Linked DNA regions of Homo sapiens: region 2 is linked to region 1. The links come from fine-mapping of genetic effects on gene expression. A gene starts in region 1. The other region holds a variant in brackets. All regions are shown on one strand. Distances are from middle to middle.

Evidence for each region. PIP is the estimated chance that this variant, and not a neighbour inherited with it, causes the effect.
Region 2: its variant is fine-mapped to the expression of HECW1 in skeletal muscle (GTEx, PIP above 0.99). The same link has a PIP of 0.9 or more in lung and thyroid.

What each region holds. Positions count from the first base shown.
Region 1 is chr7:43,110,967-43,113,868 of GRCh38, forward strand. HECW1 (HECT, C2 and WW domain containing E3 ubiquitin protein ligase 1) reads left to right here and starts at 1,681. Exons shown (of 30, transcript NM_015052.5): 1 at 1,681-1,971.
Region 2 is chr7:43,247,463-43,250,364 of GRCh38, forward strand. The region is part of intron 3 of HECW1 (HECT, C2 and WW domain containing E3 ubiquitin protein ligase 1); the gene reads left to right. LOC124901619 (a long non-coding RNA gene) reads right to left here and starts at 1,836. Exons shown (of 2, transcript XR_007060295.1): 1 at 1,721-1,836. The variant T/G (reference allele first, on the strand shown) is at 1,452.

The DNA of each region.
Region 1 (2,902 bases):
CTCCTCAGGGGAGGATAAAGCACACCACAAGGATTGCTACATCAATAACCTCTATGAGAGATGTGGACTTGTCAAGTCATCTCCATGATGGATAGAACAGAGAGCAAACATCTCTGAGCCAAGTTGATGCTGATTCACTGAAAATAATGAGGTGAACATCCTGGCAATTAGTTGAGGTAAAAAAATTATCCTTTATTGTGGTTTGGTGACATTGTGCTAATTTAGAAACCATGGATGCTGGTTTATGTGAAAGTTTTTGTTTTCTTTCAAGTCTCTGGTTGGAAACATCACATGGTTGGTTGCTGTTGCTGTTTACTGCCACAGCCTGTTCAAGTCTATTCTCGGAGAGTTTTCTTCATATAGGAGTTGGTACTAATCCAAGTGTAAAATCCGGAGAAATGTGTGCACAGCTTTCTGTGTGGATTCTTAGCTAAGGTTTGAAAATGGTCTGCTTTGAGCTCATCTGACCAGAAGATCTGACTGCTGTCAGGCAAAGAAAAGGGTCTGTCAGGAAAGGACTGGGCACCCCAAGTGGAATACGGAAAGAGAAGGGCTGTGCCTCCTTGCAGAAAAGAGCACAGCTGGTGAAGCTGCCTTCACATCGTCCAAAGTTTCCAGTTCTGGAAAGTTCCAGTTGTAAGAGTGAAATCAATGCCAAGAGGCAGGTCAGTGGAATGAGAGGCACTGAGAAACTAGCCACTGTGGGTGGAAGGGGAAGGAGATTTGGTTTTGACAAGTCCGTACTCAGGTCTTCAGTAAGGAGTTCTGAAGTCAGGGTGAAGCCTTTGTTTATTCTAGAGGAGGCGGAGTTTGGGGTCTGGGAAAGAAGATAACTTCTCAGAAAGTGAAAAAAAGCTCATGTAGAGGATGCTGGGCAAAATAATGGGAAGGAATAAATCAGCATTGTAGAGAATGTGGTTGGATCATAAAATCCCAGGCTATAGAGATTATGTGCTCAAAGCCTCTGCATTTTATGTGAACACACACAAACCAAATGTCGACCAGATGCACAAAAATGTGCATACATGGAGCAGCCAACCACCAATAGTAACCAGCATTTCACTTCTCTTTGCATCTCAGTTGGCTGTACCTGGAAGGGTCTAGACTTTGCCTCCTTCTCGTTCTAGCATTCTGACACTGTGTGCAGTGTAATAGAAAACGCGGTTTGGGAGCTAGGTTTGCCCAACAATAGATATTCTGGGGTGATTTTCATCCTTTGCATTTGTCATTACGATGTTTTGTGTGCTTGTGCAAATACAGGACGGTTCCTGAAATGTGTCTCTGAGCGTTCTTAACTGTGTGTAAGGTAAGCGAGGAAAGTGTCTAAGACAGAGGCCAAGAACACCTGTCACAGGGTACCCGCCTAGAGTGTCTGTACCGCATCCTTTCTGCTACACTGTTTGCACACACACAAAAGGGCCGAGGAGCCAGGGTTGGTGTTGGATATGCCCAGTACGCGTGCTGGGTGTTGGAAGGATGGGGCCGGCGGTAACAAGAATCGATATATATTTACCGCGGGGGCGGGGGTGGGGGTGCGCGGAGGCTGCAGGGCGGGGCAGCGCTAATGAGAGCAAGCCCGGCTTGTGGTTGGTTCTGGAGTCTGGTACCCACAGAGGAGCAGGCAGGGAGGGAGGGGATGCAAGCGGGAGGATAAAGCGATGAAGTGTGCTGCGTTACCGCGCATCAGGCGCTGTTGTTGGAGCCGGAACACCGTGCGACTCTGACCGAACCGGCCCCCTCCTCGCGCACACACTCGCCGAGCCGCGCGCGCCCCTCCGCCGTGACAGTGGCCGTGGCCTCCGCTCTCTCGGGGCACCCGGCAGCCAGAGCGCAGCGAGAGCGGGCGGTCGCCAGGGTCCCCTCCCCAGCCAGTCCCAGGCGCCCGGTGCACTATGCGGGGCACGTGCGCCCCCCAGCTCTAATCTGCGCGCTGACAGGAGCATGATCTGTGCCCAGGCCAGGGCTGCCAAGGTAAGCGGGCGTAGCGCGGGGACACTGTCTGCCGCCCCTTCCCCCCCGCCCTTCTCTGGGCGGCTTCCCCGCCGCACGCGAGGCCCCGGCAGCGCCCTCCCTTCTCGGGGCCGAGATCCACCCTCCTCCCCACCCTCTCGCTTCTCCCGCGAGGTTCAATTGTCAGCCTGGGTCGCGCCGCCGCCCGGTCCGGGCCGGCATCCCCGGGTGGCGACCCCGGCTTGGGTACTGCAGGCGCACCCGGCCCTCCTGCGGGGTACGGAGAGAAACAAAGAAGCCCCCAAGCGGGTTCGCAGCGCCTCCCCCGCCCCTCAGCGCCCTCCCAGTGGCGAGGAGGTGTCAGGGGAGGGGGCGGAGAGACCTACGTAATCCCCCTTCCCAGCCCACACCCACCCCTTGTGAACCAAAGCTCTGGATTTGCGCTTCGCCTTGGGCTCGCTTTTGAACAATTGTGTCCCATGCAATGCCCGTGGTTAGCCCAGAGAGCGCCCAGAGCCTCCGCACGGGCTCGCCGGTGCTCGCTCGAGGGGCGCGTGGCCAGGTCCGGCCCTTGCTCCCATGGACGGGTGCAGGAGGGGAGGAGGCGCTGTGTGGGTGCTCCCCCAGCGCCTCCCTGTTACCGGCCGGCTGCGCCGCTCAGCCGGGCCTGCCACCTGAGTTTTAGCGGGAGCAGTCATGTCGCCTACCGTATTGCGACTTGCAGACAGGCAGGGAGGGAGCTGCCGGGGCGGGGAGGGGGGGGGAATGCGTCCGGTCCATTTTTGGCTGGAGGTGCGCTTCCTGCTACCCCCACGTTCCCGGGCGGTGACAATGCAGCAAAATCCGAGGGCTCAAACAATGTGGCCCCTCCATCCCCGGCTCCAGGGCATTCTGATTGCTCTGCCGCTTTGACGTCCCGGCCACTTGGCTGATTTTCAGAGCCATGATGCGC
Region 2 (2,902 bases), 140 kb after region 1:
GTGAGACCCCATCTCTAATAAAAATAAAATTTTAGCCAGGCATGGCAGTGCACCTGCAGTCACAGTTACTCTGGTGGTTGAGGCAGAATTGCTTGAGCCCAGGAGTTAGAGGCTGCAGTGGGCTATAATCGTGCCATTGCACTCCAGCCTAGGCAACAGAGCAAGATGCTATGGAAGGAAAGAAAGAGAGAGAGAGAGGAAGGAAGGGGAGAGGGAGGGAGGGAGGGAGGAAGGAAGGGGAGAGGGAGGGAGGGAAGAAGGAAGGAAGAAAGGAAGGAAGGAGGGAGGGAGGAAGGGAAAGAGAGGAAAAAAGAGAGAGAAAAAAAGAAAAGAAGGAGGGAAGGAAAGAAAAGAAAGAGAGAGAAAGGTAAGAAGGAAGGAAGAAGGAAGGAAGGAAAGAAAGAAGAAAGCAAGCAAGAAAGGGAGGGAGAGAGGAAGGAAGGAAGGAGGGAGGAAGGGAAAGAGGAAAAAAGAGAGAGAAAAAAGGAGGGAAGGAAAGAAAAAGAGAAAGGAAAGAAGGAAGGAAGAAGGAAGGAAGGAAAGAAAGAGAGAAAGAAGAAAGCAAGCAAGAAGGGAGGGAGGGAGAGAGGAAGGAAGGAAGGGAGGGAGGGAGGGAAAACAATGGAGAGAGGGAGGGAAGAGAAAGACAAAGGAGAGGAGGAGAGGTGAGGAGAGGAGAGAAAGAAGAAGAAAGAGAGAGGAGCCCAGAGAGGTTGTGTGTCATCAGAGATCACCCAGAGATCGCAGGGCTGAGGTGGAGCCCCAGGGCTCCTGACAGCAACACCCCTCTCCTGACACAGAATGGGCATTGTTACATCAGTCTCCTTCACCCCATACTCTACACAATAAAGAAAATCTGTGGCTCCAGAACTTTTATGTTCTTGCTTAAATCTTCCAAACTGAAAACGATCCTGAGGTTCCCTACACCATACCCCGCCCCACCACATCCTTCATCTAGACACATCCTGGGTCTAGAACGTATCAGGAGACAGAGGTGTAGAACCACAGCCAGCTTCCCTAAACTTCCACTAATCTCCGGCTTGCTTTTGGTTATAATGTTGTGCAGATATAAATTGACAAAGTCATGAGAAGCCTCTCTTCTAACTCTGCAGTTTGTCATCCTGACACCAACAGAAAATCAGGACATCATTAATTCTCTACACTTATTGATTTGGAACCTCCATTGTAAGGCCGGCTGCTTTACTCTCCCTCCTCCTCCTCCTCCTCCTCCTTTTCCTCCTCCTCCTCCTCCTCCTCCTCCTCCTTTTCCTCCTCCTTCTCCTGTCCCTCTTCCCCCATCTCCCCGTTCTCCTCCTGTTTCCCCTCCCCCTCCTCATAGTTTTCAGGGTCGGAGTCCTAGGCCACTCTATTGCAACAGCTACCAAAGAGAAAGGGGCTGAATCTGTGTGCATGTGAGGCCACAACCTCTAGACCCCAGTGACTTAGGGGCC[T/G]CCCTGCCTCCCCTCTAGCTCTTCGCCAGTCATTGCCTGAACTCGGCTTTCCTGGACCTTAGGGGATAAATAGTGTGGTCCAGCACTGCCCTGGGTGAGCTGAGTCATGCCCTTGGCAGGGTCGAGGAGCTCCCGTGAGGAGACCAATCGCCTAGCGTGAGTCTTCTTCCGGGATTGCTCGCCCTCTGCCCCCTAGGTGCCGGGCGCCGCCCGTCCCCACCTCCATCAGAACTCGGGTCATCTGCGGAGCCTTGGCTGCGGCCCGGTACCTGGGTGTGACTCCGCCACTAACATTTTCCCAGCAGGAAGCAGCAAGCTCAGCACAGAAATAAAACTGTCCTGGTGAGTCGCTCACAGCCTGTCCCAGTAACTGTTCCGGAGCGTCAGCCTGACGCAGCACCCCTGAAGGACCACGCCGTGCGGGCTGCGAGCCTCGCCCTTAACCATGCCCAGCAGGACCAGAGCTGCCAGCACAAATGAAGGTCCTGGCCATTGAACAACTTCTGAGCCTGCACTTTAAGAAGGCGCTCTTGTTTTGAATACGTAGTCTGTCCTGTTCTTTCAAAGTAAGTGCTTTTATCAAGGGCCTGGACTGTCTTTTAAACATATTTTTTTCTCACTTGTACATTAAAGGGAAATGTATTTCTGTCTAGAAAAGGAGACCGGGAGAGGAATGAGACTGTGCGGTATTCAGGCTTGGTTTAAACTAGGGCATGCACACTGCATAGCTATTTTCTTCAGGCAGCATGTGGCCAAAAAACATGCGTGTGTAGCTGACTGTTTTGAGCTTTGTTTATTTTAAGTACTGTATACTGAGGGATTTTGTTCAAGCAAAGGAGTACCAGCTTTATATGCAGCCACAGATGCCTCTCTTGCTTGGTAGTGCTAGATTTAGAGCTCAAAATTTTCCTTTTCAGCAAGAACTAGAAGTTCCCTAGTAGTATTTTTTCCCCTCATGCCTGTTTGCACTGTGCAGAATTCTTAGAGAACACGGCTTTGCAAATGTTCTGCGGCAGTCTCAGGATAGCACGGTATGTCAGCAGATATGGGTCCCGGGCCTGTTTGCTTAGCTATGCTTTCTTAATGCAGGTTCTTGCTTTACACGATTTCAGACAATAACTCAGTATTTTCATGATCACAGCTGAATATACGCCACGGATGGATGTGTATTTTTCTTCCTCTCTTGCAGATTTTTTTTAACCAAAACACACACACACACACGCGCACACACACATACACACACACACAGAAATACAAAATAAAACTGGATTTGGTAGCATTGTATTTGTCTTAAAATTCTGGATAGGGATTATGCTGGGTCACTCTGGTCCACAGCAGCCTCATGAACTACTCTGAATTCGATGACAGACCCTGAAATGAGGGGTCTGTGACACCAACTCAGCCTGGCTTGGATGTTGTAGATGGGAGCATGGACCAGTCATTCCTTTTCA